2 separate regions of the Homo sapiens genome follow, and region 1 is linked to region 2. Evidence: fine-mapped expression QTL. A gene starts in region 2. The other region holds a variant in brackets. All regions are shown on one strand. Distances are between the middles of the regions.

Region 1 (5,371 bases), 860 kb after region 2:
CTTGGGAACCCGAGGCAGGAGCATCCCTTGAACCCGGGAGGCGGAGGTTGCAGTGAGCCAAGATAGCGCCATTGCACTCCAGCCTGGGCAACAGGAGCGAAACTCCGTCTCAAAAAAAAAAAGTCCCACGCATTTGCTCCCAGCAGCCAAAGCAAAGAAAGAGGAACAATATTGAAATGTGTTTTGAGTCTCTATCCATGAGGTAAAAGAGCTTTTCCAGCGTGGTTGAGCATGCTCCTATGGACGGCGGAAGAGTCCCGGGGCTCGGAGCAGTCAAGGGGGACCCCGAGGAGGGGCAGGAGGGCGCAGCGGAGTTGACGGCTGGGACTGCAGGCCTACTGGCCCCTGTCGGCTCTGACCAACCTGGCCGTGCGGGTCACGTAGGCCTCGTCCCACTGCATGAAAACCCCTCCCTCCTGGGGGCCCTGGGCTCCCTAGCAAGGAGGTAGCAGAATTCACGCGTGCCGCTGCTCAGGGATGCAGCGCCAGGGCGGAGCCCGTAGGTGGGGCCTATGCAAATCAGCGCGGGCAGGTTGGGAGAGCTGAGTTTGCGCATCCGGGGCGGGCCTGCACAATCCGGGCCTTGAACTGGGGCGGGACCAGTACAATCCGGAGTTGAGCATGCGCATTCTCGATCCTGGCCTGAAGAACTGGGCCCACTTGTTCCAAAACGGGCGGGTAGGTGAGTTGGGCATGCGTGGTCGGAGGCCGGGCCCCTTTCAGCTGGGGCGGAGCCTACTCACTCTGGGGCGGGACCTGCGGGAAGATAGACATGGGCTGTCGCGGCTTGAGGAGGGGCGGGGCCCAAGGGGCGGGACCTCGGGTGGCCCGAGGTGGCCCGGCTGCTGGGTTGGAAGCGGCGCAGTCCGACTCATCCCGGCCCCGGGATGGCGTCCCCACGGGAATTGACACAGAACCCCCTGAAGAAGATCTGGATGCCATACAGCAATGGGCGGCCCGCTCTGCACGCTTGCCAGCGCGGTGGTGAGGCGGGGTCCTCTGGGAGGAGGTGGGAGGTGCACCGGGATGGGTGGGTAGGGCGGCCTGGGCGGGGGTCTCGCATGGAGAAGGGGCGGGAGACAGATGGGGAACCGGGGACAGGTGAGGTTGCCGTGACTGGGGAGGCTGCTGGGGACAGGTGAGGCGGTCGTGACAGTGGTGGGCCAGAGACAGGTGTGGCAGAGCAGGGGGCGGGGACAGGTGTGTGGGGGCATATCGGCTTGGCGGTGGCTAGGTCTGGCCACCATCACCTCGGGGAGGGCTCTGGCCCCCTCGCTTCCCTCTCCAATCCCCATCGCCCCCAGTCTGGGGAGGACCCTGTGGGCACCCCAGGCCCTTCCCTCTCTCCTGGCCAAGGAGTGTGGGCCGGGTTGTTGGACTGGAACTGAGCTGTGTGGCCCTAGGTGAATTACTTGGCCTCTCTGAGCCCAGAACTTTCAAAGGTGGGCTAGTTTTCCAACAGGAGGAAGGGTGCCTCTTGGCCTTAAAGCTGAGCTTGGGCAGGAACTTCAGCAGAGATGTGCTCAGGATAGAGACAGAAAAGTATGCCGTGTGGGCCTGTGTCTGTGTCCCGGGACATGTAAGTATCCACCTGGGGTCATGGGTGTACAGTAAAACTGGAGAGTGAAACAGCTAGGAGAATGCTGAAATTCATGGAATTGTTAAGGGGCTCACCTCTCCTAGGGTCCCAGGTGTTTAAACCGCTTCCTTGAGTTTCTGCCTGTCCTTAAATGAGCTGGCAGTTTTTTTTTTTTTTAAGAGATGAGTCTCGCTCAGTGGCCCAAGCTGGAGCAAGTGCAGTGGCGCGATCATAGTTCACTGCAGCCACGACCTTCTGGGCTCAAGCAATCCTCCCACCTCAACCTCCCGATTAGCTGGGATTATAGGTGCGCCACCACACCCAGCTTTTTTTTTTCTTTTTTCTTTTTTTTTGTAGAGACAGGGTCTTGCTATGTTGTCTGGGCTGGTCTCCAACTCATGGCTTCAAGTGGATCCTCTGGCCTCGGCCTTCCGAAGTGTTGAGATTACAGGCGTGGGTCCTGGCCTGCAACTTTTTTATTACCAGGAAAAGAAAGATTTGTTTTAGGAGTAACTGAAACATTGTAATGAATTTGCAGCTTGTCCAGCACCTCAGAGAACATCTAGTTTAACAGACAGTGAAATGGAGATCAGGAGATTGAGTGACATGCCTGGGTCTCCCTGTGATCCTGCCTCTGCTTATGTATGATAAGCAAGGGGAGAGTTCTTTGTGCTCATCCTGCTGCAGCAGCCTGGAGCCATGGCTTTGATCATGATATGAGTCCTGGGGGAAGGGTGTGTGTATTTCTGGCCACACTGTGAGTCCTGGCAGGGGAAGGCCATGTTTCTGACCAGACCAAGTCGTGGTAACTCATGGCTTTGATTGTGATGTAGGTCCTGGTGGGGCTGTGCTGTCTATAATGCACACTCAGTCCTGAGGGCTATGGCCACCCCTCCTTTGAGACTCTTCTGGAGGCGGGGAGGCTGAGCCAGTCTGTGTTATTAGGGCTGTGTGGTCCTGACTTAGGGGGGTGGCTGCTATTACTACATAGGGGAAAGGAGTGAGGACCTGGACTTTTTTTTTTTTTTTTTTTTTGAGACGGAGTTTCACTCTTGTTGCCCAGGTTGTAGTGCAGTGGTCCTATCTCAGCTCACTGCAACCTCTACCTCCTGGGTTCAAGCAATTCTCCTGCCTCAGCCTTCCAAGTTGCTGGGATTACAGGTATGCGCCACCATGGCCGGCTAATTTTGTATTTTTAGTAGGATGGAGTTTCACCATGTTGGCCAGGCTCGTCTTGAATTCGTTATCTCTAATGATCTGCCCCCCTTGGCCTCCCAAAGTGTTGGGATTACAGGCATGAGCTGCCATGCCTAGCCAAGTCTGTGAGCCTTTAAGGAGTAGGTCCTCAATAAGCGGAGGCAGGGTATTCTGTCATCACTACCATTCTTTCTTTGCTTCTCACTACGTCTGAGTCAGGGATTGATGCATCAGCTCCAAGCCAACCCCCGTTACAGGTGAGAGGAAGCTGAGGCCCAATGGGAAGGTCTCATAGCTCCTGAGGCAGGGCTTGTGTTTCTCCAGGCTCTAAGTGTGGAACTGAAATGTGGCTCTGGCCTGAGCTGAG[G/A]GGCTCGTGCCATCACGGTGTCTCAGGGTGTTGGGGTAGGCTGGGTTCTAGGTCCGCACTTTTTCCTGGAGGAGGAGGTAGCACCTGAGAGGCCAAAGATGAGACCTGCAGGTTGTTTGGGGATTTGGGCCTCAGGGTTCACAGCAGGGAGTGGGTAAGCAGTGAATGAACATGGAACCCGCCCATGCAGCACCTCCAGCTCCCAGTGCCTGCATTTGGGCAACACTTTACCCTTTGCATAGTAGACTTGTAGGTTGAGTGACTGCAAGGACAGTCTGGACCCGGAGGGTGTGGGTGGGGATGGAAGCGGATTTGGTCCCAGGGCTTTGTGGGGAGGAAGAAGCAGGACCCACTGCTGGTCTGTGCTTTGTACTGGGTTTTCTCTGGAGTCTAGTCCCCAGCTCCTCAGGGCACTAGGGGCTGGTGGACTGAGGGATGTACTGCACCTCCTCCACTCCCACAGGCACGCCCCCGCTTGATAAAATTTAAAGCCACACCTGAGGGCTTGGGAGGCTTTTACCTTTCCCATCATTGGCCTCCGAGCTCAGACCTGGAGGAACTCTGAGGGCAGGTGGGGCAAGAGCTGACTCAAGAAGGACTGCAGAAAGGACGGTGTTTGATGGCTTTTCTCAGCTGAAAGGTGGCAAGACTCTTCCTGGGTAAGGACATGACTGGTGTGTGCACAGGGCAACAGGAGAGATGACTTTCAGTCCCCTCTGAAAAGGGCCTCCATGGCACGTTACTTTATTTTAAAGAGCTCTTCCTTCCCTAGCCTGGCCTAAGGAGGTGAGAGCAGTTGCAGTTCAGGAGTCAATTCTGGCACCCCCTCCAGGGACTTGTGGCTGCTCCTTGGGTAGAAGTAATGGAACATAGACACTGCCCATTGCCAGGCACGTCTCAGGCCCCTTGGGCCCCTTCGCTCCTAGAGCTCATGGGGCCTGCAGCGAATTTACAGGAAAGGAACCCATGAGGGAAGTTGGGCTGACATGTCTTCACATTTCCTTCCGCACATGCTCAATGTTATAAACAGTGTGTTCTTTTTTTTTTTTGGAGACAGTCTTGCTTTGTCCCCCAGGCTGGAGTGCAGTGGCACAATCTTGGCTCACTGCAACCTCTGCCTCCTGTGTTAAAGCAATTCTCCTGTCTCAGCTTCCCGAGTAGCTGGGATTACAGGTGTGCACCACCACACCCGGCTAATTTTTGTATTTTTAGTAGAGACAGGGTTTCACCATGTTGGCCAAGCTGGTCTCGAACTCCTGACCTCAGGTGATCTGCCTGCCTCGGCCTCCCAAAGTGCTGGGATTACAGGCATGTGCCATCACGCCCAGCTATAAACAGTGTATTCTACCATCCTGTTTGCTCAGTGTCAGGGTCCTGTGGGCTCAGAGCCACAGGTGCAGCCGTGCACCCAGCCCGCTTAGTCCACGTGCTCTGTTTTGAGAGCTGCAATGTGTTCCCTCCTTGTTGTGCCTCAGTTGGCAATTTCTTATGGCTGGAATTTCCCAGTGTTTTGCTATGGTAAGCAGAGCTGTTGTGATACACTTGAACTTTGGTTTTCTTTTGGGTCATTTCCTTGGGAGCTTATCTTGGGGAGCAGAGGAGATAGGTAATTTATTGCCTTGTTTTGCACCCAGGCCTGATTTGCTGCCCTGCCTGCCCACCTTGTGCTGCGCATGTGGGTGGAAGGCGGGAAGGGAAATGCCACCAAATGCCATGGGAGGAGGCTGGAGCTGTCTCTGGGAAAATAGGAGATGTGGAGAGGGGGTGCAGATCCCCAGTCCTGAGGTTTTGGGAGTCCCTGAAGGAGCAGTTGGGGGGTGGCCCCATCAGCGGGAGCAGGGTAGATGCAGGATTTCCTCCTGCTTAGCAGCTGTCGCACTGCCCTTGGTTGCTTGAGAGCCCGGCCACCTGGCCGGGAACTATGCAAACAATGCACAATGCGGGCCTCAGCTGTCCACCGGCCCTGAGGAGGCAAGGCCTTGCCTAACTTGTTTTCCTCTCACCTTAGCTAATACTGAGAGTTCTCTGCAAGTTTCTCCACTCTCACTCAGTCAGCCTGTTTCATGGGGTCTCCTCCTTCCCGCCCCTGAGGCTCACCATTTGGGTCACCTTTAAACAAGGGGAATGCACAGGAGTGATGGAGCCCCCACTGGCAAGCAAGGCCCTTTGTTTCTCTGCAGGGCCTGCCTGGGGCCAGGCCACCGCCTCCATGCCCTGAGTCCCAAGGG
Region 2 (5,371 bases):
CGAACTCCTGACCTCGTGATCTGCCTGCCTCAGCCTCCCAAAGTGTTGGGATTACAGGCGTGAGCCACCATGCCTGGCCAACTCAGGAAAAATTTTTATGGGGTCACATCTTGGGGATGGAAGAGGGACAGGAAAAGAAACCTAAGACAAAAGAACTGATGGTCTTCCCAACCCAGAGGCTTCCTGAGTTATCACCCCTGAGAGAGGAAGAACACAATCTCTCTCCTTAAGGCACCCAGATAAGAGTACAGGCAAACTCTTCACTTGCCCAGTGCCTGGGTGAGGGAGCAGGCTTAAGAGGCAGAAGAGGCCCAGCCCTGTAGGCACTGGGTACTCCCTGCTACCAACCCTGAACCCCCGGCAGTTGTCCCTGAGGTCTGGGGAGTAGCAGAACCCAGTGTAGAAGCCAGCAGACCCAGTGATGCCCTTGGAGACCCTCTGCTGCCTTCCCTTATTCTCTGTGGGTTTTGAGAGGTTCGTTTGCTGCCATTTCCCTGAAAGTGATGGAGAGAGAGAAGAGAGAGTGGTTATTCCATGGGCAGAACAGTTGCTGAAATTGGCTCTCCCAAGCTCCTTCTTGGGGGCTGAGCTAGGCTCAGTAAGGTCACATAACAATCTAGACCTCTCTGCTGGTCTCCCACAGCCCACCCTGGGCCCAGCACCTTCTCCCTGCAGACTCATTCTTCTTCCTGGTTCTCCATGTTAGTACGGCATTGCCATCCTTCTCTAGTTTTTTTATTCTTTTTATTTATTACTATTGTTATTACTTTTCTTTTTTTGAGACGGAGTTTCACTCTTGTTGCCCAGGTTGGGGTGCAATGGCAAGATCTCAGCTCACTGCAGCCTCCACCTCCCGGGTTCAAGCAATTTTCCTGCCTCAGCCTCCCAAGTAGCTGGGATTACAGGCGCCCGCCACCACACCCAGCTAGTTTTTGTATTTTTAGTGAAGACGGGGTTTCGCCATGTTGGCCAGGCTGGTCTCAAACTCCTGGCCTCAGGTGATCTACCCTCCTCAGTCTCCCAAAGTGCTAGGAACAGGCGTGAGCCACCATGCCCGGCCTGTTATTTTTTTTGAGACAGAGTCTCACTCTGATGCCCAGTCTGGAGTGCAGTGGCGTGATCTGGGCTCACTGCAACCTCTGCCTCCTGGGTTCAAGTGATTCTCATGCCTCAGCCTCCCGAGTAGCTGGGATTACAGGCGTATGCCACCATGCCCAGCTAATTTTTTCTATTTTTAGTAAAGACGGGGTTTCCCTATGTTGGCCAGGCTAGTCTCAAACTCCTGACCTCAAGTGATCCGCCCATCTCAGCCTCCCAAAGTGCTGGGATTACAGGCATGAGCCATGGGGCCTGGCCTCTTCTCTAAGACAGAAACCTGGGCAGTGGCAGCCTTTCTAACCTCTAGCCCTAACTCTTGGACCCCTTTATCTACTTGCCATGAAGTAGGCATTTATAAAGGCAAATTAGATCAGACCACAGCCTTGCTGAGTTAGTCTTTCAATGGCTCCCAGGGTCCAACAAGCTCTCACGTTCAAGCTCCAGCATCACAGTCTTACCTATTCTAATATGTCACCCGTATTCTTCCCTCTTAGCCTTGCTCAATCCATTCCCTTTGCTTGGTACACTTTGTCACCCTGTGGCATTTGATCTCGGCTTAGGTGTCTTTCTTGGGAGAAGCCTTCCCTGACCACCCTTGCCCCATGCACTGCCGCCCTCCCCTAATAAATCCCTGGCTCCCCATGAGCAGGGCCCGGGTTGTCTTTGTTCTCTGGGCCTCGTGTGGCCCCTATCACGTGATAGGGGCCCAGAGATTATCTGAATGAATGCCCTGATTAGTGAGCGCATGTTTTGCAGAAGAGGAGGCTGACCCTGATGAGGTCAATGTGCTCAGGACAGAGATTACTGCCTTCCCAACTGAGGGGATTGTGCAGAGTGGAATCCAACAAACCTGTCATTTCATCTCTCTGAAATTATGACAATACCACCACCTATCCTACAGGCTGCTGAACAGCATGATGATGGACTGTCCAGACCTTGGTGTCACCCTAACTTGAAGCCTGAGCTCTACGTGCAGACTTGAAGCTTGCTGCAAAGGCCATTAAGCTGGTGGGCTTAAAGCCTGAGAACTCCCCTCTCTGTCACCAGCACAGGAGTGTCCTTGGAATGCCAAGCATGGGGTTGCGGTATGGACAGATTTACTCACCACGAAGGGAAATGCGTGGAGCCATCAGGCGTGGATCCATTCTGACCACCCAGACCTGGAGGCAGAAACACATCCAGAGCTGCAGAAGGCTGGGGTGGGAATCTGAGCAGGCATCAGCCCAGGTCAGGTTAGAGACCACTGGTATTGTTTGGTGAAGTCTGGTGAGGGTCCTAAGGGACTAATGGTATTGCCAGGTGAGAGTTCTGAGGAACAGATACAATGTGATGGGTGGACTGGTGGGGATTCTGGCGTAAAATGGTATGGTGGCATGAGTCAGGGCACAACGTTAAGTTCTCCCATCCAAGTACCTGGCTTAGCTTCCGAGGTCAGATGCGTTCAGGGTAGTAAGGCCGTGAACCAATGTTAAGTTCTGATGAGCCTCTTGCAGGATAGTGGGGAACCCAATGGTACAGTCGGGAGAGGGTGGGGGCGGGGGCGGCCAGCCCACGGAGGTTCGTAGGAAGCCTCACCTGGACGGTGATACAACCCGGTCACTGTATTCCCGTAGAACCCCCACGCCAGCTGGATGCCCAGGAGACTTAACACCAACCACAGCAGCAGCAGCTTGAAGAGGGTCACGCGCATGTCCTGCGCCTCCCACTCCCGCAAGAACTCGCTGCCCAGCGCGCCCAGCACCGTGGCCGGCAGAGCCTGCAAGGCCTGCCCAGACCAGGACTCCGCCATGACTGGCCCTCGCCCCACCCGGGGTACTGTCACCGTAGTCCCCACCACGCACGCGTGTGGTCTTCCGGGACCAGGCCCGTTAGTGCGCACGCGTAAACCCAGCCAGGGTGGGGCCTACTTCGCGTGCGTGAAGAGTTGGCAGTTCGGGGAGGAGTATTAAAACCGCGCACGCGCACCTAACCCCACCCTGCTTGCTTAAGGGATGAGTGACTCCGGGAGTACAAAATAGCAACCAGGTCTTTTATAGCCCCGGAGTTCCCGTGATGCCCCACGCGGCTGCAATGATTGGTTAAGGGTTTTGCTTTTAGGGCGTGGACGGGCTCCTGAGCAATAGTGGATGAGCTGTGAGTGCGCGCGCGTGCGCGGGGCCGCGACCTGTGCCGGCTCGAGCCCGCTGGGCACTCGGAGGCGCGCACGTCGTTCCCCGCCCTCCCGCCGCCGCCCGCCCTCGCTCTCTCGCGCTACCCTCCCGCCGCCCGCGGTCCTCCGTCGGTTCTCTCGTTAGTCCACGGTCTGGTCTTCAGCTACCCGCCTTCGTCTCCGAGTTTGCGACTCGCGGACCGGCGTCCCCGGCGCGAAGAGGCTGGACTCGGATTCGTTGCCTGAGGTGAGCGGAAGGGTTCCCTCCAGGCGCCGCGGGGCCCCAGGCCCGCCAGCCCGGTACTCTTCCGGCCGGCAGGCCGCCGCACCGCCGCGGCCGCGCCCCACCGGCTGCTCGTGGCCGAGCCGCCCCTGGCCCCTGACCCTTGACCTGACTCCCAGCCCGGGCCCCGCGCCCCAAGCGGCGACCCCGCCCGCGCAGTCCCCGGAAGCGCGCCCGGTAGTCTCCTGTGCCCCTTCCCCCGCCCGGCCGGGCCTGGTGGAGCCCAGGCTGCCCGCCTGCCCGCCCTCGGTCCCCGGAGCTTCCTCTCCCAGCGGCGCCGGGCAGGGCGGGGGCTTTGGGCCGGGCCCCGCGACCGCGCAGTGTAGCCGGCCGCTGAAAGCGCGCGTGGCTGTCGGAGTTGAAATGGGAAAGAAACTCTTTACAACTCCATTTTGCTTTTTACGTTTAACGAGAAACGACAATCACTGTTTCATATTGATTAAAGTCCAGTTACACTTTGGGTAGGTTTTCTTTTAATGCAGACTTGTTGGAGACTGTGTAAGTAAGTAAAAGATTGTATTGAACGCTTAGGGGTATGATCTACGGCCATACCACCTGGAACGCGCCCGAACTCGTCTGAAAGCTTTGGGGTCTGTTTTGAGTGGAAAAGGGGTATTTTCCATTTGGAAAAAAAAAACAACACACAAAACTGTAAATGATTTAAGCGATGTTGCATGAAAATAGATGCAATGTTGCTTAGTCGAAGTCGCTGTATTGATTAGGAATGATCTAAATATCTGTACCTTAGTTACTGATTGGATCTACAGTTACGGGTCGTCTTCATTGAATAGCGCTATTCGCATCCAAGTTGATTTGTTCACAAACCTTGTTTAGTAGTTTACGGTGGAAAATTGGAATCCTTTTTACCTCAAAGTTGGTTCCACTTGTGTTTTTTAATAGTTCTGATTTTAAATTTTTACCTCTGTTGTTGACTTGTTTGGTTCTGTCTTGAAGAAAGTCTTAAACGTTTCTTGCAGGTGTGTAAGTAGATATTTCACTCTGCCTTTCTGAAGGAGAAAAATTGAAAAACCAAAAAACTTCCATAATTTAAAATGTTGTATGTGGAGAGAATTTTTCAACCACTTAGTATCACCCAGATGTGTAATGTGTACCATGCGGATGATTGTCACCTTAGATGTGGCTAGATTGGCGGAGATACTGTTTTGAGCATTTGGCACAAGTGACATTGGACTGAAAAACTAGTTTTTAATTGTAAAGAATGACTTATTGAAGGATCTCTGGATAACTTGTCTTAATTGGTTCCATCTACTTTTGTGGAGCACTGATGGCTCTTGGGGACATTAAATATATAAGGTGCACCTTGGTTTGAGTTAAAGTCTAGTGCTAGATTTATCCTCTCTGTTCTCATAAAAATCTGTGTTGGAGGGAAGAAGAGAGTAGGAATACTGTGTAGTTCTTGAGTTTTAGATCTAAGAGGAATCTTTCAGGACTGGTTGTCCAACCCCATTTGCAGATGAGCAAACTGAGTCCCAGAGACTTAAGTAAATTTCCCAAGGTTACCTATCTAGTCAGGAGCAGACCAGAACTGTCTGCTCTGTTAAGGTATTCTCCATTTACTCCCAAGCAGTTGGCCTCCAGAGTCAGCTAAAATTCAGGACTTCTAGCTTATTCCATTGTTTCTTCTTTTAAACCTTGTTGATGGTGAATAGTTTGGGAGAAACTGTTCATTTGCCAAAAAATTTCGGTTCATTAGCTTACACAGCACTCTCCCCTTGTTAACTGGATGGTCCTGCCTTCAATTGAGGGAGATAGATGAATGTACGAGGGTCCCTGGTTGGCCTAATCATGGCTTTGTTTGGATTTTTTTTTAAGGGACCAAC

The links.
Region 1: its variant is fine-mapped to the expression of TCTA in blood mononuclear cells (TOPMed, PIP above 0.99).

The regions. Positions count from the first base shown.
Region 1 is chr3:48,552,294-48,557,664 of GRCh38, reverse strand. PFKFB4 (6-phosphofructo-2-kinase/fructose-2,6-biphosphatase 4) reads left to right here and starts at 862. Exons shown (of 14, transcript NM_004567.4): 1 at 862-984. The coding sequence starts at 888. RefSeq lists enhancers at 150-239, 370-459, 4,582-5,243, 5,244-5,371. The variant G/A (reference allele first, on the strand shown) is at 3,144.
Region 2 is chr3:49,409,943-49,415,313 of GRCh38, reverse strand. TCTA (T cell leukemia translocation altered) reads right to left here and starts at 2,891. Exons shown (of 3, transcript NM_022171.3): 1 at 2,674-2,891; 2 at 2,204-2,258; 3 at 1-494. The coding sequence starts at 2,887. The coding sequence ends at 452. It overlaps RHOA (ras homolog family member A), which reads left to right and starts at 3,338. Exons shown (of 5, transcript NM_001664.4): 1 at 3,338-3,494. RefSeq lists enhancers at 2,679-3,088, 3,024-3,318, 3,217-4,191 and silencers at 3,159-3,458, 3,519-3,798, 3,809-3,898.